7 linked regions of the Homo sapiens genome follow. The protein of the gene in region 6 purifies or fractionates together with the protein of the main gene of each other region. This does not show direct contact. Each region holds a gene or a part of one and is shown on either strand. Other genes may lie near its edges.

Region 1 (3,500 bases), on a different chromosome or scaffold from region 6:
ATATGTGTAGTTTTGGGTTCAGTGTATGAATTATGCTTAATACTTTTCACTGAAATGAAAATTTGTTTTTTCATCTGTAACCTTTGATTTTTCGGGTAGATCATGCGCAGGGAGAAACTCCTTGCTTGCTCTCACCAGCCCTGTTCCAGTCACGGGTGATCCCCGTGCTTCTCCAGTTGTTTGAAGTTCATGAAGAGCATGTGCGGATGGTGCTGCTGTCTCACATCGAGGCCTACGTGGAGCACTTCACTCAGGAGCAGCTGAAGAAAGTCATCTTGCCACAGGTCAGAGGCCAAGTTTGCAGTGGGGTAGTCACAGAACCTGAGGGAAGAGTGCTGAAAGAAAGAGTTTTGGAGGTATTCAGATAATAGCTTAGAAAGCCTTCAGGCAGCAGTCTGTGGAATACAAAGTGCTGAAATTAAAATTGCATTTCCATTCCATTCACACAGGCAAATTGATTAAACTGACATATTTGGTCTTAACCTGGGAGAAACTATAATTGTTTGTTAATTTTGGGAGGGTAAATGAATAACAATAATGTATGGAGCACTTTGTGAACATAACATATAATTATCCATAATTATTATAAAGTAATTAAATTAGAACAGAGAGGAGCATGAGATGATTCTTATCAGTGGCTTTCAGCCTGTTGTTATCAGCCACTAGGGAACCTTATTATGATTTGCCCACCAAAGGGTTTTGTTAGTGAAACTAATGAAAGGTTTGTATTAGTTGCTTAGGCTGCCATAACAAATTATCACAAATTATAATGGCTTAAAGCAATACAAATTTATTTTTAGTTCTGGAGGCCAGAAGTCTAAAACCAGGGTGTCAACAGGACCCTGCTTCCTCTGAAGGCTGTAGGATGTGAAAGGGACTCCTCTTTACAAGCTTCTCGTAGCTCCCAGCAATCCTTGGTATTTCTTGGCTTGTGGCTGTATCATTCCAGTCTCTGCTTCTGTTGTCACGTGGCCTTCTTACCTCCTTGTCTGTCTTTACATGGCCTCTTAGAAAGACACCAGTCATTGAATTTATGGCCTACCCTAACCCAGTATGACCTCATCTAAAGGTCACATTCTGCATGGACATGAATTTTGGAGGGACACTATTCAACCTAGTATGAGGTTTTAAAAAAATTGTTTTAAAAGACTACAATCACATGGTGTCTTTCAAATAATTTTCCTATGAGATAGATTAACATTCTCTCTGCTTTCAAGGAGCTCATAAGTGGGACATGTTTCAGTCATCCGTTGCCATGTAAGTACCCCAAAACTTAGTGCCTTAAAATAATAATCATTTTATTAATTCTCATGATTCTTTGGATTGACTGGACTCAGCTGAAGGTTCTGTTCCACATATCAGCTGAGTCTTCAGTCATCTGGGGCCCGACAAGGGTTGACACATCCAAAATGGCTCCTTGGTATCTTGGAAGGGGTGGCTGAGAGGCTGCGCCTTTCTCTCCATGAATTTTCAGGAAGCTTGGGGGGCTTGTATCCCCCCATGTGACATTTCCACATGATTTCTCTAGCAAGGCAGGTGGACTTCTTAAATGGCTGGCCAGGGCTAAAGAAAAAAAAAGGGCAAAAGAAGCCTTCTTAAAGTGTAGGTTGTGAACTGACAGTCATTTTTGCCTCATTCTCTCGGTTAGAGTTGGAAAAAGCCCAGGCTCATTGTGGGATGGGTTTACTCAAGGGCATGGATACTGGAGGTGTGATTCGCTGGGGGCTGACTTTAAAGTCTCTGTGTTGTAGTAACTACAACATAGCACTTTGTATTTACATCTGCAGCAGTAATTGTTACCCTGTATGTAGTTGTGTCTGGAAATTTAGAAGAGGAATGAAGCACTTTAACTCTGAAATGGAGTTGTCATCATAGGTCTCAGAATTGGACTGAGGTCAAAGAGTAAATGTTGAGCATGTGGAAGACAATGAAACCTCTCATTACTTAGGAAACTGCTTCCCCTAAAGAAGAGTGGGCCAATTTGTGTGTGCTAGAAAGTTCACTTTGGTAGCAGTGTGGAAGAGACCACAGAAAGGGAGATAAGCTAGGAAGCTGTTAGAATAGTTTAGCTAAGAGATGACAAAGGCTGGGGAAAGTGTGACAGTGGATATAGTAGAGGGACACAGAAGGGGTAGTACTCAGTTTCTCATTAGATGGAAGAGGTGTTGAGGATGACCAATTTTTGGCTTGGGCGGATTGCTGTTTTATGATTATCATATTCAGTGGGCAGAACTCTAATCATATGTAAAAGAAACATGCTTTAGTTTACATGTACAGAAAGTGATCTGTTAGCATTGGTCCTAATAATTATCTTTTGAGTCCTGTTGGAAACCTTTAATCTTACTATATAAATGAGGAAACCAGGCCAGAAAAATAAAAAGACCAATTGGTCAAGTCACATTGAGAATTATTAGCAGAGCTAAGACCAAAACCAAAGATTCCTGATACCTGTCACGCCCTGCTGCTTCCAGTAGGCAGGCCAGTTACCCTGGCCTTGTGTCTGGCTGGTGCAGATGCTTTGAAGGTCATTTCCTTCCTTATATGCAGAGCAGTACTTGCCTGATATCTGCATGTGACTGTCTTCTAAGGTGTTTTTGGTTGCAAGTAACTGAAACTCATTTTAAACCAGCCAAAGCAAAAAAAATTTAAGAATGTTAGACTAACTTAGATGGAAATCAAGTGCAGCTGGGGCTTACAGCCATGTTTTTCATTCCTTTCTTCTGTCTGCATTTGTTTGACTTTTGACTCTCTGAAGACCAGCTTTCCTTGTTTTGGTGTGCACATGGCCAAAATGGTTGTCCCATAACTTCCAAGTTTTCTGTCCTCATAAAAAAAAATTATTTTAGAGATGGGGGTCTCACTGTGTTGCCCAAGCTAGAGTGCAGTGGCTCTTCACAGGCATGAACCCACTACCGATCAGCCCAGGAGTTTGACCTGCTCCATTTCCAACCTGGGCTGGTTCACCCCTCTTTAGGCAACCTGGTAGTCCCCAGCTCCTGGGAGGTTACTATATTGATGCTGAATTTAGTGCAGACACCCAATCAGCATAGCACACTACAGCCCAGAACTCCTGGGCTCAAGTGATCCACATGCCTCAGCCTTCTGAGTAGCTCGGGCTACAGGCACTTGTCCCTGCCTGGCATACTGTCCTCATTGAGTAAACCTATATAAACTGAAAATATAAATTCTAGTTTATATTACTGGACAAAAGATCATGATGGGCTCAGTTTGGGACAGGTGGTCCTACCCTTGAAAAGAGCTGAAAAGAGAAGCATGGACAGGAACATAACTGTTAGTACCCTAGATGAGTTCTGAGTGCGCTCTGCAGAACACTGCCAGTACATGAACTTTTTATTACAGTTCTGTGATGTGAGTACAGATATGAAGACTTAACATTTAAAACCTTTTGTCGCAATTTGACAGAGTAATTTTATGTACCCAACATATGTCTTTTTAATTTTGTTTTGATTGTATTTTTTAAAAATGGTAAGTCTGTGATG
Region 2 (3,500 bases), on a different chromosome or scaffold from region 6:
GCCCAATGCCAGCTCTGCTTTGAGACTGTGGGATGACCCTGGGCACTCCAAGTCACTCAAATGGCAGGGGAAGGCTCACGAGGTTTCCTGAAGTGCCTGCAGAGTGCCAAGCAACACGTGAAAGCTTGAAGGGACTGGAAGATTATTCTTGCCTCCCAGAAGTTATGGTCCCCTGAAAGAAATATTTTCTATCAAGAGCACCAGGAAAGGCAGCCAGCAAGTTATATCAGATTATCAGAGAAAGCGAAAACCCTCTAGGAGTTCAGGGGAAGAAATCTCCTCCGAGTGGAGGAAAATCAGAGAAGGCTGATAGAGCTGGTGACACTTCAGCTGGGCCTGGACAGATATGCAGGGACTGAAGGACCACAGGAATGGTGGGAGCAGAGTGGCAGGTGCCCACAAGCGGGAAAGAAACTACAAGTAGTTCAGCTGGGCTGCAGCCTAGAGGGTAGGAAGCAGACAGGACAGAGGTGGCTCCAAGGCCTAGACAGGCTGTACTGGACAGGGCTTTGCACACTAGGCCAGGGCTTGACATCTCCTGCAGAGAAAGACAGGAGAGTCACTTACAATTCATGAATGGGAGGTGAGATCAGAGCTTGGTTTCAGAATGACTCATCTGGCAGCACAGTGGGGAAGGCATGAAGTGGCAAAAGCAAGACTAGAGGCAGGAGCATGGTAGCCAAGGGAGTGGTAAGGCGGGTCAGATCAAGGTCTGCGGCAGCGGACAAGGTTCTGTACCTCCTGGGTGGTAACAGTGGCAAGTAACTACAGTGAGCGGGCACTGGAAAGAAAAGTTACAGAGAAATCAGGATGCCATCAGGAACTCCCAGGGTTTGGCCACACTTGGAATTGTGGTCAATAAGATGACAGTCAGCTACAGAGCAAGCTCTTGGAGGGCAGGGAGAACTTTAACCCCACCAGTATTACCCGCCAAGGGTCAGGCAGGCCTTTAATAATTGTTGATTCAATGGAAAGTCTTGGTCTGTCCTAGGGCTGACAGACTGACCTCAAAAAGGAAGGTGAAGGACAGCCAGGTGACCTACATACAAAAACAAAAGACCTGACCGAACACTCACTTCCCAACAGGCAAAACAGATTCTGCTAGATAACAAGGCCAGGGATTTCTAACAGGTCAATTGTAGTCCACAGCCCCAAACCAGCAGTGGTAAAGACAAACCATAAGGCACTGGTCATCCCCTTTACATGCTACACACAGGGCTCAGCTCAGAAGCTGTAGCTGTCTTTGTGCCTGGGGCTGAGAGGTAGAGGTGTTATAGTCCCTCTTACCCATCCTAAAAGGCTCTCAGGGCAGAACCCTGAAAGTGTGAGTATGCCACCCTACAACACTTAGAAAAATTTCCCAAATCCGTTTTTCCCATTACCAGTATTGCTTCCCATGGCCCCCTCCTTAAAGGGGACAATAGTCACTGGGATGTCTAACTTCCAGGATAGGCCAGGCATGGTGGTTCATACCTGTAATCCCAGCACTTTGGGAGGCTGAGGCAGGAGGATCACTTGAGGCCAGGAGTTTGAGATCAGCCTAGACAACACAGTCAGACCCCCATCTCTACAAAAAATAAAAAATTAGCTGAGCGTAGCAGTGCACCCCTATAGTCCCAGCCACTCAGGAGGCTGAGATAGGAAGATTGCTTGAGCCCAGGAGTTCAAGGCTGAAGTACACTCCAGCCTGGGTAACAGAGTGAGACCCTGTCCTCCACCACCAAAAAAAGGAAGAAACTTCCAGGGTGCTAAAAAGCACCTAGAATCTAGTCTACTTCTAAACAGTGACATCAAAATGCAATCTGTCTCAGACCTTTTATTTTTTAATTTTTATTTTTTTGAGACAGAGTCTTGTTCTTTCGCCAGGCTGGAGTGCAGTGGCGCAATCTTGGCTCACTGCAACCTCCGCTTCCCAGGTTCAAGCAATTCTCCTGCCTCAGCCTCCCGAGTAGCTGGGATTACAGGTGCATGTCACCACGTCCAGCTAATTTTTGTGTTTTTAGTAGAGACAGGGTTTCACCATCTTGGCCAGGCTGATCTCGAACTCCAGACCTCAGGTGATCCACCCGCCTCGGCCTCCCAAAGTGCTGGGGTTACAGGCATGAGCCACCGTGCCCGGCCACCTCAGACCTTTTATATCTGTAGTTTAAAAAAAAAAAAAAGCAATATGTCATACTTAATAGGAAAGAATGCTCAATATATATTGAATGAAAAAGAACAGGCTGCAAAAAAGCAATAAAGAATAATACACTTTTGTAAAATAAAAATGTGTATTTCCTACACAAACTAATAACAAAGATTATCTTGAGACATGAGATTAGAATTGTGATTTTCAGCCGGCATGGTGGCTCGTGCCTGTAATCCCAGCACTTTGGGAGGCCGAGGCGGGCAGATCACGAGGTCAGGAGATCGAGACCACCCTGGCTAACACGGTGAAATCCCGTTTCTACTAAAAATACAAAAATAAAAATTAGCCAGGCGTGGTGGCGGGCACCTGTAGTCCCAGCTACTTGGGAGGCTGCGGCAGGAGAATGGCATGAACCCGGAGGTGGAGCCTGCAGTGAGCCGAGATCTGCTACCATTTTTTATGAATATGTATTCAATGTAATCTATCCCATAATTTTGTCCCAATACTATATGGATCGGATACAAAAGGAGTTTCCGGTTAATTCTTATCTCCACAAAATAATTCAGAAACAGTCAGAAACTACACTTCCAATTTTACCAAATAAAAGTGCCCAGACCTTGGCCAGGGACAGTGGCTCACATCTATGATCCCAACACTTCGGGAGGCCGAGGCAAGTGGATCACTTGAGGTCAGGAGTTTGAGACCAGCCTGGCCAATGTGGCAAAATGCGTCTCTACTAAAAATACAAAAAAAAATTTGCTGGGCATGGTGGCGTGCACCTGTAATCCCAGCTATTTGGGAGGCTGAGGCACAAGAATTGCTTGAACCCGGGAGGCAGAGATTGCAGTGAGCCAAGATCACACCACTGCACTCCAGCCTGGGCAAGAGAGTGAGACTGTCTCAAAAAAATTTTTTAAACGTGTCCAGACCCTGACAAGGCCACTGCCACTGTACCTGGTACCACAAAACAAGGTTTCAGGTTACTCCTAGCAGTGACTGCCTAGGCCATAGCAGAACAACTTGTTCTGACCACACATCTTAGAGTTCTGGGACAGGAAGGATCAGAGAAGGGAATCAAGCTCCTCCCAAGCCTTTCAGACTCATTTACATCAAATGTCTCTTTCTCCAGTGAGGTCTTTTCAATTCCAAGTCTGGTGTAGGTATTCGTCCTGCAGGCTCCCAAGTGCTTCCCTTCAGAAGGCTCCCGTCCACAGCTGATGACAGCTGCAAATTAATTCTTTTTTTTCTTTTGTTTTCTTGTGTGTGAATGAATTCTTGAAAAACTGCCTGATTACTTGTCAGTGCCCCTTGCTGGATGGGCTTTAAGAGGACTTGGACTGAATCCACATTCCCAGTATCAGGCACAGTGCCT
Region 3 (3,926 bases), on a different chromosome or scaffold from region 6:
AAATATATTAGTTCATTGGAACCCGTGTCTTTTAACCAAATGGAAATTATGCAAAAGGACCAGAAAATATTACTGGGTACAATTAAGGAATCACAGACAGATATTGATTGGTTAAAACACCCTCCACTTTCACCCCCAGGAAATAGGCCTCAGATGAAAGAAACTATTGAACAGGGAACCTATTTATTCACAGAGAACATATTCATGGCCTTAATTCAAGACAGGATTAAATACTTTCACGAGTTGGCAAAACCAACTGTGCCAATCTGAGATATTCATTGCTACCCTGGGAGTTAATGTATGTGACCCAAGCCATCAGGAAGACGATATTCTATTATCAATGAACACTCAAACACTAGAAAAATCATGATAGTTGCCACCATAATTCAAGATAGACACAATAAAGTGATTCTCCTGAGAATGTCTTCAAGGACTTATTGCTTCCTCTTCTCTGGAAAAAGGAATCCTCGAGGAGGAAGGGTTTACATTCCCCCACCTTCCCAACTGTCAGACTTCGGACCGCTCCTCTCCTGTCTAATCCGCCTTTCATTTCCCAGACGCCAACATCTGATCTCCAGGAGAAACAGTGCGGTAACTGCCTAACCAGGATTGGGGAAAACTGAACCAGGCACTGGACTTGGGTCTGGGGAGATAGAGGACTGCAGAGATTTCACAAACACCGCGGTGCCTAGTACACTATAGGAATAAGTGTACTATTCCTATAGTGTATACTTTTTTTTTTCCAGAAAAATCCCTCTGGGGTATGAGCACTATTTTCAGTTCTGGTTCAACTTTTCATTGAGATTCTATGTGGATAAGAGGATCTTGTAGTGAAAAAAAGATAAAAAGCAGTGTTTTCATCTGAGTGTGAGAAACCATGTGTGCCTAGAGGTGGGAGAACTGAGTATTCAGAAGGCAGAAAAAATAACTGAGAGCTGGGTGAATGATCCCACAGGCCCTAAGCCCTAGATGGTTGGGGATTAGCGATGTATAATTCAACTTCTGCCAGCGTTGGCGGCAGCGCTCCCACGTAGCCAGCCTGAGGCTGTCAAGCTCTGGACTACATTTCCCAGAAGGTCTGCTCCCCGGGCTGTCGCAATTTGAATTGGGGCGTGTCTAGAAAGAGAAGCCATAGTCGGCGAGCAACGCTGGAGCATCCCGCTCTGGTGCCGCTGCAGCCGGCAGAGATGGTTGAGCTCATGTTCCCGCTGTTGCTCCTCCTTCTGCCCTTCCTTCTGTATATGGCTGCGCCCCAAATCAGGTCTGTGCAAATGTATTGCCTTCTCTTGAGAATTCTTGTTGCGGGGCGGGAGGGAAACATAGAATCCCCACCAAAGCTTTCTTGGAAAACTCCCCTGGGGGGGCTCCAAGATGGCGGAGCCCAGAGTTCGGTGGGTTGGAGGCGAGGTCCAGCTGTCCTGGGTGCCAGGAGGACACCCGAGACCCCAGGCGGTGAGAAAGGGCGGCAGTCCGGGGCACACTGCTTTTCCCTGGCCTGTTTTTCTTTTGTCTAAGCACCCCCTGATTCTGGCTCCAGGGAATCCCGAGGGTAAGGCTACCTCAAACGCTTGAGTTTCGGACTCTTCAATGGGATATGGCCCGACGCTGTTTTCCCCTTATTCCCCACGCCTTAAACCAGCCTTCGAGGTACAAAGGAGCGATTCCACATTTCGCCCTCTGAAACTGATAGCAATCGTAACATCTGCGGCCCCATCCTTGCTCTCTCGTTGCTGTTACAATCGCTTGTTCTGTGGGCGGATGTTGTAAAGGAGAAAAGTGAAAAGGAAGAGTGTTTGGTTATGAGCTCTATCCTGCCTTGCGAGCAGGAGCACGGGGGATCTGAGTTAGGAGCTAGGGTACTGGGGCGGTGAGGGCTGGGAGAATGGTGGGAAGGTATTGACCAGGTGATAGATCAATCAGCCCAAGGCTGGCCAAGTGCCCCAGTGAATCAGCAGCGGGCTGTAAAACCGGCAGCCTGCTTATTGGTTCTAAGTAAATCACCAGTGGTGACGGACCAGTGACTGAATAGACAGACACACTCCTTCCCCAGGTGGGCGGTCTTAGTCCCAATAGAACTTGAAGCCAGGCCAGATCACAGTCATTTCTTACCACAGTCACCTACTTTCCTTCTTTTATTTTTATTTTCTCTTCCTTCTCTGGTGCCCCTCTTCCAGTTATATTTTTTCTGCCTTCTGAACACTCAGTTCTCCCACCTCTAGGCACACATGGTTTCTCACACTCAGATGAAAACACTGCTTTTTATCTTTTTTTCACTACAAGATCCTCTTATCCACATAGAATCTCAATGAAAAGTTGAACCAGAACTGAAAATAGTGCTCATACCCCAGAGGGATTTTTCTGGAAAAAAAAAAAATATATGTGTGTATATATATATATATATGTGTGTGTGTGTATATATATATATGTGTGTGTGTGTGTATATATATATATATATATATTCCAGGAGCTGTATTCCCAACTCAGCAGGGTTATGGGAGTCGGGCCAGAGCTGGACTTTTATAGTTGTCTCTTTCATTCCTGCTGGTTAAGGAGAAGAAAGAACTAAGTACAGGTCCTACTAAGTTGTCACTCCTGGAGCTACATACAGTAAGGGGATGTGGGAAACAGCCTAGAGGCTTGTTTTCTGAGGAGGGAGGTGATGGTTTGTGGGGACCATGAGTTAATCTGCCTCCCTGTCAGCATTTTCGCACTATGCAGGTAGCTTCAATGGCTAAGAGTATGTACCTTGCAATTCCAAGTTCAATGAAAAAGGCTGAAATGCTCTTTAAGAATGCATCTCCTGGTCAACAGATTGTTTTAACCAGAGTCCCAACATTGCCAAGAAGAGAATAGGCCAGTCTGAGAACCACCAATCTGTGTTTGTGCATTCATTCATTTGGAAAAGGCAATATAGTATAGTACTTAGAAACAAGCACTCTAGGCTGGGCTTGGTGACTCACACCTGTAATCCCAGCACTTTGGGAGGCTGAGGTGGGCGGATCACCTGAGGTCAGGAGTTCGAGACCATCCTGGCCAGCGTGGTGAAACCCTGTCTCTACTAAAAATACAAAAATTAGCTGGGCGTGGTGGCGCATGGGTGAGGGGGTGAGGGATGAGAATCGCTTGAACCTGGGAGATGGGGGTTGCAGTGGAGGTGGAGGTTGCAGTGAGCCGAGATCACACCATTGCACTCCAGCCTGGGCAACAAGAGCAAAACTCTGTCTCAAAAAAAAAAAAAAGAGAAAGAGAAAGAAAGAAACAAGGACTCTAATTACACAAAGCAAGACTTGAATCCCAGCTCCCCTTTGTACATACATAATCTTCTCTTTGTTTTAAGTGTGTATGTGCATGCGTGTGGGTGTGTTTTTTTTTTCTTGTTTATTTTGTCCCAGAGTCACAAGCTTTCATAATTTTAACTTTTTGTATTGGATTAGCCATTTCTCAAGGCCATAAAATGCCAGTTGTGGACAGATTGACCTACAGAAACTAGTTATTTCTTCTTCTGGGCTGAATCTTGTGATTTCCTAAGTCACAAGTGCCTTAGAGAGCTCAAACCAAAGCCAGGTGCCTGGCTAAGCAGGTATTCATCCAGTTCTTGTGCTGCAGAGAACAGCTGTAAGCTTTGCCCTTGTAATAGAATCACTTTTGTCTTTGAGCAAAAGCAGAAAACTTTTGTCATCTTTCCTCCAACTTTCCTTAAATGGACACTGTTTCCTTAAAAGGACAACAGTGGAAAGAACTAAAGCAAACCTCAGCCAGAAGACACAGGGAGTTGCAGGAACCTACTGGCTGAGACAGTAGAATGAAGAATTGATGAGCTCTCCTTCTCTGTCTGCAGGAAAATGCTGTCCAGTGGGGTGTGTACATCAACTGTTCAGCTTCCTGGGAAAGTAGTTGTGGTCACAGGAGCTAATACAGGTATCGGG
Region 4 (3,500 bases), on a different chromosome or scaffold from region 6:
AGTGGTCACCAGTAGTTTCAACTTTTTCCCCCCAGTAGCATCAACCAAACTTAGCATAGTGATTTTTAACTCTTTGCTCCCACACGCACTCATCCCAACTTCCCCGCTTGCCCCACTCCCTGGGGGGAAATAACCCTGCCTTTAAAATAAATAGCAACCAAGTGCTCAGTTCTATGGAAAGTATGAATATTTATTTCAGGCTTTCGATCCCAATCGATTTCAAAAAACAAAGTCTGATTTCTCTCCTCAGAGCAGCTGAGGCCTCCATGTTACGATGGTTTCATGGAGATTGAAGGAGCACATTTCATCAGGCTTAGCACAAAGTCCCTGATGCCCACCATGTCCCAGCCTTAGGAAAGGAAAGAAACAGAATTCACCACCATGGGGCTGAACGAATGCACACACACTAATGTAAATGAGCAGCTAAACCTTGGCAAATTTGTTTTTTTTTTTTTTTAAAGTTTGTTTTGTGGGTTTTTTTCCATTTTCTTTTGCTACCCAGTATATGCAGCACTTGTGAACTCCCAACAGGTTCCCAGCTTTAAACACATTAAACATCTTGAAAGACTATTGAATTCTTCAAGAATCTAAAAACAGACCAAACGTGTTTTGCTGTGAACATTCTGTAGAGACGAAGTGAGGCGGGAGTTTGGGTTCATATTTTTTAAAAAAAGAATCAATATAGTGATGGAAGGGTAAAGAATGCAAGAATTCAGACATTCTGTGGAGGGTTACTCTCTCTCCATTAAAGGTCCATAAAAAGGAGCAAACTGAGATCCATAAGGGGAGTCAGCAGGAGCTGTGTGTGTTTCCCCACCCGCTGTGAATAGGTTTTTGCTGAGGGGCCATGGCCAGGTCCCCACTTGCTCCCCTCCCTTTGGCCTGAGATGGCAGGGCAGTACAGGGGCACTGAAGGAGCACGTCACGACTCCTCATTCCCAGAATCATCATCATCATAACAGTCGGCATCTTCCTCCTCCTCATCTTCATCATCAATGTCGTCATCATACAAGTCGTCGTAAAGCAAATCTGAGCTGTTGTCATTGGAAGGCACTTTAGTTTTGATGCAGTATTCCGCCAGGGTTGTGGGGACCTTCACTCCATCCTTTTCTGCTTCGGCCTTAGTGGCTGAAACTTGTTTCCTGAAGGGAGGTTGACACAGAAATGGTTTACGGTAAGTCTTTTTTTAAGACAGATTTATAATTGGCCTTAAATAATCAATATTACTTATGACTCAGCTCTCCAAACTTCAGTACCTGCCTGAAAGCATCTGACAGATACCCTGTACTACACCAAATGCTTTCAACCCACTGGGTACAATTTTGAAGTAAACTTTGACTTTTTAGGAGGGGAAATACACTGTTAATATCAAGGGAGTTTAAAGCAGTGGATCAATTATAGCCAGAATCACCTCGTCAACTGGCTGTCCTCCGATTCATGTAAGGGCCAATAGGTCGGCGACTTAAGAATCAGAACAGGTATTGACTTAGTGGGCGGAATGTCATGCTTTGTTGTTTGCATGTGTGAAGCACAGGGATAACTGCCAGAATAAGAATAGATAATAGAAGGGCTAATACGCCTCCTAGTTTCTTGGGGCTAGATCATAAAGGTTGCATATGTGAATAAAACGTCCCACTCTGGTTTAATGTGGGGTGGGGTGCTTAGGGGATTGGCTAGGGTTTTGGCCTAGTCACCTCACCACCAAACTCAAGTGCCCCAACAATTCTTAATTTAATTATCCTCTTAATTTTCACTGACAGTAAAATTCAAATGCCTATGCCAGATTCCAGTGTCTTGCACGACCCACTCTTCCCCACCCAAGACGGAGTCTTGCTCTGTCACCCAGGCTGGAGTGCAGCGGCGTGATCTCGGCCCACTGCAACCTCCATCTCCCAGGTTCAAGCAATTCTCCTGCCTCAGCCTCCCAAGTAGCTGAGATTACAGGCTCCCGCCACCCCACCGGGCTAAATTTTGTATTTTTAGTAGAGATGGGGTTTCACCATGTTGGCCAGGCTGGTCTCGAACTCCTGGCCTCATGATCTGCCCACCTCGGCTTCCCAAAGTGTTGGGATTACAGGCATGAGCCACTGCACCCGGCCACATGACCCACTCTTGTATTTTCTCCAGCCCTTCAACACATTCACCCTGGTCTTTTTTTGGCATCTCGGACACACCTTGTTGATTTTTCTGTCTGGACCAGTTGCTCTTCCCCTGCCCCACACATGCCTGGCTCCTTCCTGTCACTCAGAATCACGGCCTCAGATATTAAGGCTTAAATATCACCTTAGAGAAGGCCTGGCCTGACAACCCAATTTAAAGCAGCCATCTAGTCATTCTTTCACATTATCCTACTTAGCACTATCTAGTATTTTTTGCTTGCTCACTCTTCTGTCTCCACATATTTGAATGTGAGCGTAAATGTCTTTCTTAGTCCCATTTCCCCAGTCAGTGCCTAGCACATAGCCTGGCACATAAGAGGTGTGCAATAAATACTGATTGTATGAATGAACAAACAATAAATTGTTTCCTTCAACAATTATAAAAATTTGAGTCATCAAGACTAGACCACTCTTCCTGATCTTCCTAATGTCAATCTCTTAGTTGTGCTTGAAGCTTTTCTTCTGTTGCCTTGCTTTGAATATTGATGGTCCTGAGGCTTCTGGGCTTCAATCTCCACACTCTCAGCACTCTCCCTGGGACATCATCTCTGTTCCCATAATTTTAACCACCACTCCCTTTATGCTGACAGCTCTTGGCTTATATAAACAAATGCCTTTTGGAAGCCTCTGTCCTAATGTTCCATATGCAGAGGTAGACTGCATATGCATTTTCTACCTCTATGGACAGTTTCTCCCATTTTACTTCTCTGAATAAATGAGCATTGCTTCTTAAAATAATAAATCTCACTCCAAAGACCTATTGCTTTACAGCTTAAATATTTTTATATCTGTCCCCTCATCCCCATTACTACTACCTCAGTTTAGTCCATGTTGGTCCCCTGGCCAACTATTTGATTTTTTTTTTTTTTTTGAGACAAGGTCTCCCACTGTCACCCAGGCTAGAGCACAGTGACGCAATCTCAGCTCATTGCAACCTCTGGCTCCAGAGCTCAAGCAATCCTCCCACCTCAGACTCCCAAGTAGCTGGGATTACAGGTATAAGCCACCTCTCCTGGCTAATTTTTTTGTAGAGATGGTATTTTGCCATGTTGCCCAGGCTTGTCTCAAACTCCTGGGCTCAAGCAATCTGCCCGCCTCGGCCTCCCAAAGTCCTGGGATTACAGGCGTGAGCCACTGTGCCCAGCTGACTGTCTTTTTTTTTTTTTTCTTTTGAGACGGTGTCTTGCTTTGTTTCCCAGGCTGGAGTGCAGTGGCGCGATCTCAGCTCACTGCAACCTCTGCCTCCCGGGTTCAAGCAATTCTCTTGCCTTCAGCCTCCCGAGTAGCTGGGATTACAGGTGTGTGCCACTATGCCCAACTAACTTTTATATTTTTTGGTAG
Region 5 (2,167 bases), on a different chromosome or scaffold from region 6:
GCATTTCCAGATGGGCTTGACTCGCTCACCTCACCCAGGTGTTACCAGGCTGGTTGCCCATCCCCCACTCTGCACCCACTCTGCCTGGCCTCTGCACCCTTGACCCTGTTGTATTGCCCCTCTTCCCTGCTGTTTCTCCCTTCCCAGGGCACAGATTCTAGAATCTCTTCATCTTCCCCAACTGTAGCCTTGGAAGCAGTGTCTTGCAGAGGTGGAATTAGATGCACCAAAAAGTTAATCTTGGTCCCTACAGTGCCAACCTGGCAGTCCCCAGTGCTTATGGCTTTGTGTATATCCCCAGTGCCCGGCACAGTGCCTGGCACATAATAGATGCTCAATAAATGGTTGCTGAATTGAAGCAAATTAAGCTGAATCTCCCAGATGATATTGCTGTCTCCCCAAATTGGCAATCTGATGGGCAGAGGCAGGGATTGGTCCCTGAGACTGTCACGGTCCTGTCTCCACCCCCTTTCCTAGACTTATTCCCTACCCTGGGCACCTGACTCCTTGAGTAGGGGTGGGGCAGAGCTCCTGGAAAGGCTGGGAAGTGCTGGGGCAGGGAATGGGGCATTTGCCAGCAGCTGTGCCCTTCACACTTGCTCCCTCCCTCCCTGCTTCCCTCCACTCCTCCTCAGTCCTGGCCAGAGGGGCTGGGCTCCTGGGAGGGGGCAGGGCTAGAGAAGCCCACCCCTCCAACTCGCCCCATCATAGACCAGGACACAGAGGCCCCTCCCACTGGGAAAATGATGGCTCTGTTGCTTCAAACTGGAGACTGAGGAGCCAGAGAAGAGGGCAGGACCCTCAGTTTCTGTCAGTTGGAACCTCAGTTTCCCCATTTTAAGTGAGTGACTTGGCTAGTTGATCTCTGAGGATCTTCCAAGGTCATGGTCTCAGAGTCAGTGTTTCTGCCTCTTGCTCCTTCTCTCAGGCCTAATCAATTTCCATTGAATGTGAGTGTAATGGCAGTGATGGTTGGCTCCGCACAATTGCCTTTTTTTTTTTTTTTTTTTTTTTTTGAGATGGAGTCTCTCTATGTCACCCAGGCTGAATTGCAGTGGCACTATCACTATCTCAGTTCACTGCAACCTCTGCTTCCCGGGCTCAAGCGATTCTCCTGCCTCAGCCTCCCAAATAGCTGGGATTACAGGCACACGCCACCACGCCCAGCTAATTCTTGTATTTTTAGTAGAGATGGGGTTTTGCCCATTTCTACTAAACAGATGGAGGTAATCCACCCGCCTTGGCCTCCCAAAGTGCTGGGATTACAGGCGTGAGCCACTGTGCCTGGCCTACAATTGTCACTTTTGTCCCCACGAAGGGAGTTGTTGGGAGAGGAGCGAGTAGTGTGGCTGCAGATGGGACAGGGCTGGCATTGGCAGCTCAGGTTCCAAGGCCTCCCCTTATGCCGGCCTCAGGCTTTCCCTTCCCTCTCTGTAGCCAAAAGCCAGGTGGAAACCCCACCAAGGGCAACTGGGAGAGTTCTCACTGAAGCCCCAAAGAAAGCTGCCCCACCCTGTGCATGGCCTCCTCATTTCCCAGCCTTGGCTGCCCCTGCCCAGGCGAGGGTGGTTACCCCATGGAGAAGGCAGAGCCTGCAGCAACCTGCATTCACCATGGAGCCCCACCCCTCAGCCCCTCAGCTGACTTTGAAACTGGCCTCTGTTGGTGGGTCCCCGCTGGGAAACATGGCCCCCTACCTGGAGCTGCTCTTCCAGTCTGGCCTCATCCACAGTCCTAAGGGATTAGGAGCCAACGGGAGCCCCAAGGAGGCCACTAGCAATGGAAACGAGGGCCCAACATGGCCTCCTGGGCCAGGGCACATGTCCAGCTTTGCCTGCAGCCCTGGCTTTCCGTCAGTGCCCTGGAATGCACAGTCATCCCTTTAACATGCCCCTCCAAGTTTCAGGAACTCATCGTCACCTCCAGCCTGATGGCTGCTCTGGGCTGGGAGCAGGGGAGGAGCACAGCCGTGCCAGGCCAAGGCCCTCCTGAGGGAGCGCTGTCAGCACAGGAAAGCCCTCCCTCCCCACCAGGTCCTCTCTGAAGCCACTGCCAGGCCAAGCACTGGGCAGGTGGACAGCGGCCCCCTCCTCTACCCCTGCCCACCCACTCCCTTCTCTCTGGGGACCCTCACATGTGCCTCCTGCCTCCCCCCAGGGACTGGCAG
Region 6 (3,500 bases):
AGCCCCAAATGTAACTGAATGATGACCAGGGATAACTATTTACTAGTGCTTTTATGATTTATTGTAACTCTGTAACTTTCCCAGTATTTGTTAATTTTTTAACTTCTGTTTCTCCTGTACTTACGAGCAGTAAAAGTTGTTCAAAACATAAATGTGATGTGTGTGCTTATTTCTGTGAAAACTGGGTAACAGTTACGAATATTGTGCACTGAACATGAGAAGAGAAGAAATCAAGGAGGAAAATGATGATGGGGGGAATCAAGTAGAATAAATACTTGACATTCACCTTCCCAAGTCTCCAAATAAGTAAATACTACTATTGGCACTAGTTGGCTGTCTTTTAGGGGCTATTTCTCCACCCTGCAAAGACTGCATATGGGTCAAGGAGGGAATTAAAAGCCCTTCTTAATGTGGACACACATGGTTGGCTAAGCTACTCACTAGGCTGAGACATGCTCTCAGACACCAGCCTTATGCTACAGGACCTTCAAAAATGATGTATTTTAAAATGCCAACAATCTACTACATAACCAAGTTCTATCTAACTAGATAGAAACTTTGAGGAGAAGAGGGTCAAGATTCTTCACAGGAGACCAGGTATATGAACTCTCACAAGTGGTCACATTATTCCAACAGAAAGCTTGAGTTCCTTTTTGTGCTACTGCTATACACACTCAGTTTCTCTTTTAAGATTAAGTGTTCAGCAAATTTTACTCAGAGATTTAGTTTTAAAATTAATATTTCTGCAGCAGTAAACCATTTTATAAATATATATATTCACACACACACAAACACACACACACAAACACTCATCATTAAATTCTAGAAAAGCATCACATTCTTAAACTGAGCATTTGAAGAGTTGAAGAGCTCACAAGGAAATGCATTCTGAATCACGTATCTCCTCCCTTCTGAGGGTTAGTACCTGCTGTAGGGTCATCATCAGGCAAACGAACAAGAGTGTAACATATTCCTGGTTGGTTATAAGGAAGGCTGGGGGCTGGGATACAAGACAGCACTTCATAGGAATCTGATGGCTCCATCTGCACTGTCACTTTTTCCAGCAGCTGGTCATTGAGAGTGTTGGTGCAGTCAAACTGAAAAGTCAGTAAATGGAAAAGCTGTGAAGGATAACAAGTTATCCTTCCTACTCATAACCCACTACTCAGCTCTGGAACCCACTATACCTTCTATCTCTACAGAGCAGGGTAGGTCTCCTCCTAAGATTCTTCTTTTGGCAACAGGGAGAGCCTTATTCTTGAGGTCTTTTGTTTATATTATTCATCAGTTTTTTCTCTTTCCTGAGACTGCTGTCTCAAACAAGATGGCAGAAGTCTGATGGCTGTCAAATCTAAGTTCTCAGAATAGCCCACTTAATCTACCCTGATGTTAAATGCTGATTTTAGAAAATTGGTTATACTTTATGTTGTCCAACTTCATCACACATTTCAGTTTTATGTCCTTTAGATTTTAACCATCAAAAGTTACCCATCACATGAAGGGATCTCTATAGCTCTGGTGTTAAGCAAGAAAACCAGAAATTCTGCCAAATTAATTCTCTATAATAGAAACTAGAATTATAGGTAAAGGATATTTGTCTCAAAGCATACCAGTTTATACTAAATCTCTACAGCAGCCAAGGGCATTATCTTACCTGGAACACGATGTGATTGGTAAACATGTGCTTGATACATCGAACAAAATATTCTGTCTCTGCTTCTGTAAGTTGAACAGGCTCAGAAGACTTGAACAAGGGTCCTATATTCAGAAACTCAGGAATGGCAGCCAATTGTTCTATCAAGAAAAAAGAACGTAGGCTATGAAGAAGACAGGGAAAGACTTCAGTCTGGATGCTTAAAAAATGCTTTAGTTGGCCAGGAGCAGTGGCTCACGCCTGTAATCCCAGCACTTTGGGAGGCCGAGGCAGGCGGATCACGAGGTCAGGAGATCGAGACCATCCTGGCTAAGACCATCCTGGCTAACATGGTGAAACCCCGTCTCTACTAAAAATACAAAAAAATTAGTCAGGCGTGGTGGCAGGCGCCTGTAGTCCCAGCTACTCGGGAGGCTGAGGCAGGAGAATGGCGTGAACCTAGGAGGCAGAGCTTGCAGCGAGCCGGTATTGTGCCACTGCACTCCAGCCTGGGTGACAGAGCGAGACTCTGTCTCAAAAAAAAAAAATGCTTTAGTTTCCATAGCCTTACTAATAGTTGAACATTCAACTAATATGTCCCCAAGTTTTAGTGAAGTCATCTTTCAAGTAAGTAAGCTTATATATTAATGAAAGCAAAAAGCAAAAAAAAAAAAAAAGAAAGTAAATACTTATTTTACAATGAGTTCCCTGTTAACCAACGAGATACAGAAAAGAAAAACATTCCCAATTAGCAATTACAAACTGGAAAGTTCATGGACTCCAGGTAGCCTCAGCAACTATACCCTATGGTGTTCAGCCACACGAAGATTTCCTATATTGAGAACCGATCAATTTGAGTAAGACTGGTAGACTTTTTATATTTACAATGCCTAGGGGAAAGATTATTACGTCTAACCATCAAATCATCATACCTTGGAAAATGTCTTGCCTGGAAGGAGCCAACTTCTCTGGCTTAGTAGCCACAAGTGTGATTTCTATAAAGACAGATATGAGCAAGTAAGTGAACTTCTCCCACTACTATCAAGCTAGCAATGCAGACAGAAAGAGAGGAGAGCAGACATTTCTAGCAGATATATAATGAGCTATTACTAGATCATACTTATAGGTTATCTATCACTTCTGGTGGGGGGACACTCAAATTAAAATGTATTTAGTGAACATATATTGTGGAATCATAAAGTAAGCCCTAAAAATATAGAGTTTGCTTTAAATGGACTGGAATGTACAAAAATTACTCAGAAAAGGAAAAACAATTTATTTTAAAAATCTTCTCATGATCAAAATAGGAAAAATTACTTATATCAACAGAAAAACTGAAAATGTTGAAAATAAGCATAAAATTGTTTCTTCCCAGTTTTGTGTTCTAACCACTAAACATTTATGACTTCTTTTGTTTTTGTTTTTAAGTTTTAAGATTAGATATTCTTTGGGAATATTTTTTATGATTGTCGCCCATAAATTCTTTTAAGACGAACCTCCAATAACAAAATCAATTAACTTAGAGATTATCAACTTCAGAAAATAAAAATAGGAGGCGACAGCACTATTACTGCTCTGAGATGCACAGTGGCAACTGACTTCAGATACTGTAATGCTTTGCATTAAAAAAAACCCTTCATTTTGGAGTGCATTTCATCTTACTGCTTTTATGTAAAAACCAGGAGTTTTTTTTAAACTCTAATAAAAATATGTCTTAAATCTAAAAGATTTAGAAGGGGTGACAATCGGCTGAGCACGGTGGCTCCCGCCTGTAATCCTAGCACTGTGGGAGGCCGAGGTGGGTGGATCACCTGAGGTCAGGAGTTCAAGACCAACCTGGCCAACATGGTGAAATCCAGTCTCTACT
Region 7 (3,500 bases), on a different chromosome or scaffold from region 6:
TGAGCACTCCACTTGAACACCCTGCAGTAAGCACCTGCAGTGAGTACCTCACAGTGAACACCCTGCAATAAGCACCTGCAGTGAGCACCCCACAGTGAACACCTTGCAATAAGCACCTGCAATGAGCACCCCACAGTGAACACCCTGCAATAACCACCTGCAGTGAGCACCCCACAGTGAACACCCTACAATAAGCACCTGCAGTGAGCACTCTACACAAACACCCTGCAGTAAGCACCTGTAGTGAGCACCCCACAGTGAACACCCTGCAGTAAGCACCTGCAGTGAGCACCCTGCAATAAGCACCTGCAGTGAGTACCCCACAGTGAACACCCTGCAATAAGCACCTGCAGTGAGCACCTCACAGTGAACACCCTGCAATAAGCAACTGTAGTGAGCACCCTGCAATAAGCACCTGCAGTGAACACCCCACAGTGAACACCCTGCAGTAAGCACCTACAGTAAGCACCCTGCAGTGAGCACCCCACAATGAACACCTTGCAATAAGCACCTGCAGTGAGCACCTGCAGGGCAGTTGTAGCTCTAATGCCATGGTCTTGTCTTGTTCTGTACAGCATGATGTATGGGAAGGGATGGATGAGATGCTTGGATACTGAGAACAGCACATGTAGAATCCGGGACCAGCTACCAATCCCCATCTGTTTGTTTTTCTAGAAACCCGAGATGATGAGCCTGTGTGTGGGAGACCCCTGGGTATCCGTGCAGGGCCCAATGGGACTCTCTTTGTGGCCGATGCATACAAGGGACTATTTGAAGTAAATCCCTGGAAACGTATGTGACAATATCTCGTTTCCTTCTATGAAGATTTTAGATCTTTTAAACAATATATGTATGTGTAGACTTAATAGGATTTGTTAGCAACAGTCTACTAAAGACTCTGATATTTCTTATTCACTGAACAGTACTGAAAACATTGCCTGCAAAAGTCAGCTAGTTTTAAACACCAGAAAACTCCCTACCCATGATTCCATTTGGTCCGTATCCTAATTTCCTCCTAGTATTTATATTTTAGCCACAGGGTCTCAAAAGGACTTATTTTGAGGAAGTTAGACCTCTTTCTGTCTTGATTTTTCTGTGTGTCTCTCTGCGTCTTGTCTATTTGTTTTCTCTCTTTCTTCTCTGTGGCCCTCCCCTTTGTCTCTTCCTTTCTGTTTTCTCCTGTAGTTCCTCCTCTTCTCTCCCCTGATTGCTCATGAGTCCCCTTGATCAGGCTGTAATACGTGCTGTGTGTCTCAGTGGAGGTTCCTGCTGGGGAGGAGTCCGTTGTCTTGTGCGTGGGGGCCCGAACATAGGCCCTGCAGCCCAGCTGCTTGGGGGCATTCCACTCTGCTGGCCACCAGCTGTGACTGCAGGTCCCTTAGTTGCTCTCTGCCCAGCTTCCTCATCAAATTGGGGTCATAGTAGCCCTGCCTGTGGGATTGTTGCGAGGGTTTAAAGGCGATCACACCTCGAGAGTGCTTAGCACTCAATCCATGTTCTTTCTATTATTTTTCAAAACTTACTACTACTTTTCTTTTCTAAAAGGAGATGAGTAGAATGTCATATTTCTCTCAAATAGAACTAACAAATAGAACTGAAGCCTGCCTAACACTTGCAGTAGATGTTATCAAGTCAGTTGGCCTTAGTAAAAGAAGGAATTCCTCATCCTTATAGAAAAGATTCTGCCTTTAATGAAATTAGTCTAAAAAAATCATTTAACACCTAATACTGTTTTTACTATAAGAAGGAATAAATCTTCTGACAAATGACATGGAGAAGTTTCAGTTTTTCTTTTTAAATCAGTTAGGTTGGTTAATATTTTGCAATTATTGAGAAGTTCCTAGTTCAAGTCAATCTTTTTCTTTCTTTTTAAACTTCAGGTGAAGTGAAACTGCTGCTGTCCTCCGAGACACCCATTGAGGGGAAGAACATGTCCTTTGTGAATGATCTTACAGTCACTCAGGATGGGAGGAAGATTTATTTCACCGATTCTAGCAGCAAATGGCAAAGACGAGACTACCTGCTTCTGGTGATGGAGGGCACAGATGACGGGCGGTGAGGCCTTGCTCCAGGTCTCCCATTTGTTGAGTTCACCAGCCAGGCCAGTTGCTTCAGCAGAGCCTGTTACTTCTAGGGACCAAGGGAGTATTTCCAGCATCATATTTCAGCTTCTAGGACAGGACCTTAGTGGCTTCTGGAGGCAGGTGATGGATGTCACAAAATGGAACAAGGTGCTTTCGTTTTCTCTGAGGAAATAAAACAGGCCAGTCCGTCTGAGGGTGCAAGTCTAGGCAGTCGAGAGAGACCCCGGAGGCAGGCCTGGGCTTTGGGTTGCCTCTCTGAGGGGTATTCCTGTCCAGCTCCCAGGTGAGCAAGATAACTGACCTTGGGGTTCCCTGGAGGGGACACTGGATCTGCTGTGGATGGGGAAGGGCCCCCAGGGGCCAGCCTCGAATCAAGTTTGAGCAGGGCACCCAGGGCCTGTTGCTCCGGGGTGAGGCGGAGTCACCTTCTTCAGGCCCATACCCTGAAGGCCCAGAGTGGGAGCCAGGGATTCTCCCCCATAACCCTCTGCTTTTGGTGTTCCACAGCCTGCTGGAGTATGATACTGTGACCAGGGAAGTAAAAGTTTTATTGGACCAGCTGCGGTTCCCGAATGGAGTCCAGCTGTCTCCTGCAGAAGACTTTGTCCTGGTGGCAGAAACAACCATGGCCAGGATACGAAGGTGTGTGTGGGATTAGCTGAGCCATCAGTTACTGGCCAGAGCGCATCATGGCCGGGGTGGGGTGGGCATGGAAATGGGATCGACAGAAATCAGAGGCAGCAGCGCACCTTCTGCATGGCATGTTAAAGAAAATTCAAGGGTGCGCTTTCTTTCTCCCATTGCGAGTCGCAGTCCGGAAGAGTGTCTTAAGGCTGACTGGTGCAGCCCGGGCCCCATTCCCCTGCTGGCAGGGCCTTGGTCCTCCCCTGACCTACTTCCCCTCTGTTCATACTGGGCCCTGTGCACAAAGGTTTCTTCTCAGCAGCTGAGCCTTTGTTCATGATGGTCATAGAGCACTTTCCATATATATATTTGGACCAAGACCAGTTTGGTGCTTGGCTAAAATTTTTTTTCTGAAATTGAGGGGCTATGGTTCACTCTCTGCTTGGGTGAATTTTTCAGAGTCTACGTTTCTGGCCTGATGAAGGGCGGGGCTGATCTGTTTGTGGAGAACATGCCTGGATTTCCAGACAACATCCGGCCCAGCAGCTCTGGGGGGTACTGGGTGGGCATGTCGACCATCCGCCCTAACCCTGGGTTTTCCATGCTGGATTTCTTATCTGAGAGACCCTGGATTAAAAGGATGATTTTTAAGGTAACTGTGAAAACTGTTATTCCAAGAAAGAAAATGGAAATGAATTGAATCATATTTTTTTGACCCTTATAGCTTAAAAATCTAGTTCTGCTTGTAGTATTTGGCTCTGAATGACACTTAGAAACACATTTCATTCTTCA

The links.
Region 1: the proteins of COPG2 (region 6) and SCYL3 purify together in Homo sapiens (affinity purification with mass spectrometry; 2 studies listed by BioGRID and IntAct, with this or other methods). This does not show direct contact.
Region 2: the proteins of COPG2 (region 6) and MCFD2 purify together in Homo sapiens (affinity purification with mass spectrometry; one large-scale study listed by BioGRID and IntAct). This does not show direct contact.
Region 3: the proteins of COPG2 (region 6) and RDH11 purify together in Homo sapiens (affinity purification with mass spectrometry; one large-scale study listed by BioGRID and IntAct). This does not show direct contact.
Region 4: the proteins of COPG2 (region 6) and UBE2R2 purify together in Homo sapiens (affinity purification with mass spectrometry; one large-scale study listed by BioGRID and IntAct). This does not show direct contact.
Region 5: the proteins of COPG2 (region 6) and SCN2B purify together in Homo sapiens (co-immunoprecipitation; one large-scale study listed by IntAct). This does not show direct contact.
Region 7: the proteins of COPG2 (region 6) and APMAP purify together in Homo sapiens (affinity purification with mass spectrometry; one large-scale study listed by BioGRID and IntAct). This does not show direct contact.

The regions. Positions count from the first base shown.
Region 1 is NC_000001.11:169,859,397-169,862,896, reverse strand, and holds part of SCYL3 (protein-associating with the carboxyl-terminal domain of ezrin), read left to right. Parts: intron 1-99; coding exon 100-284; intron 285-3,500. UniProt on the Homo sapiens protein: May play a role in regulating cell adhesion/migration complexes in migrating cells.
Region 2 is NC_000002.12:46,909,307-46,912,806, forward strand, and holds part of MCFD2 (multiple coagulation factor deficiency protein 2 isoform A precursor), read right to left. Parts: intron 1,568-3,500; exon of another isoform or gene 1,474-1,567; intron 1-1,473. UniProt on the Homo sapiens protein: The MCFD2-LMAN1 complex forms a specific cargo receptor for the ER-to-Golgi transport of selected proteins. Plays a role in the secretion of coagulation factors.
Region 3 is NC_000014.9:67,692,965-67,696,890, reverse strand, and holds the start of RDH11 (retinol dehydrogenase 11), read left to right. Parts: upstream 1-1,126; 5' UTR 1,127-1,187; coding exon 1,188-1,261; intron 1,262-3,838; coding exon 3,839-3,926. UniProt on the Homo sapiens protein: Retinol dehydrogenase with a clear preference for NADP. Displays high activity towards 9-cis, 11-cis and all-trans-retinol, and to a lesser extent on 13-cis-retinol.
Region 4 is NC_000009.12:33,914,660-33,918,159, reverse strand, and holds part of UBE2R2 (ubiquitin-conjugating enzyme E2 R2), read right to left. Parts: intron 1,143-3,500; coding exon 923-1,142; 3' UTR 1-922. UniProt on the Homo sapiens protein: E2 ubiquitin-conjugating enzyme that accepts ubiquitin from an E1 ubiquitin-activating protein, and catalyzes its covalent attachment to other proteins by an E3 ubiquitin-protein ligase complex.
Region 5 is NC_000011.10:118,164,473-118,166,639, forward strand, and holds part of SCN2B (sodium channel regulatory subunit beta-2 precursor), read right to left. Parts: 3' UTR 1-2,167. UniProt on the Homo sapiens protein: Regulatory subunit of multiple voltage-gated sodium (Nav) channels directly mediating the depolarization of excitable membranes.
Region 6 is NC_000007.14:130,546,749-130,550,248, forward strand, and holds part of COPG2 (coatomer subunit gamma-2), read right to left. Parts: intron 2,629-3,500; coding exon 2,566-2,628; intron 1,795-2,565; coding exon 1,655-1,794; intron 1,098-1,654; coding exon 926-1,097; coding exon of another isoform or gene 894-925; exon of another isoform or gene 1-893. UniProt on the Homo sapiens protein: The coatomer is a cytosolic protein complex that binds to dilysine motifs and reversibly associates with Golgi non-clathrin-coated vesicles, which further mediate biosynthetic protein transport from the ER, via the Golgi up to the trans Golgi network.
Region 7 is NC_000020.11:24,968,752-24,972,251, reverse strand, and holds part of APMAP (adipocyte plasma membrane-associated protein), read left to right. Parts: intron 1-675; coding exon 676-792; intron 793-1,880; coding exon 1,881-2,055; intron 2,056-2,591; coding exon 2,592-2,726; intron 2,727-3,167; coding exon 3,168-3,360; intron 3,361-3,500. UniProt on the Homo sapiens protein: Exhibits strong arylesterase activity with beta-naphthyl acetate and phenyl acetate. May play a role in adipocyte differentiation.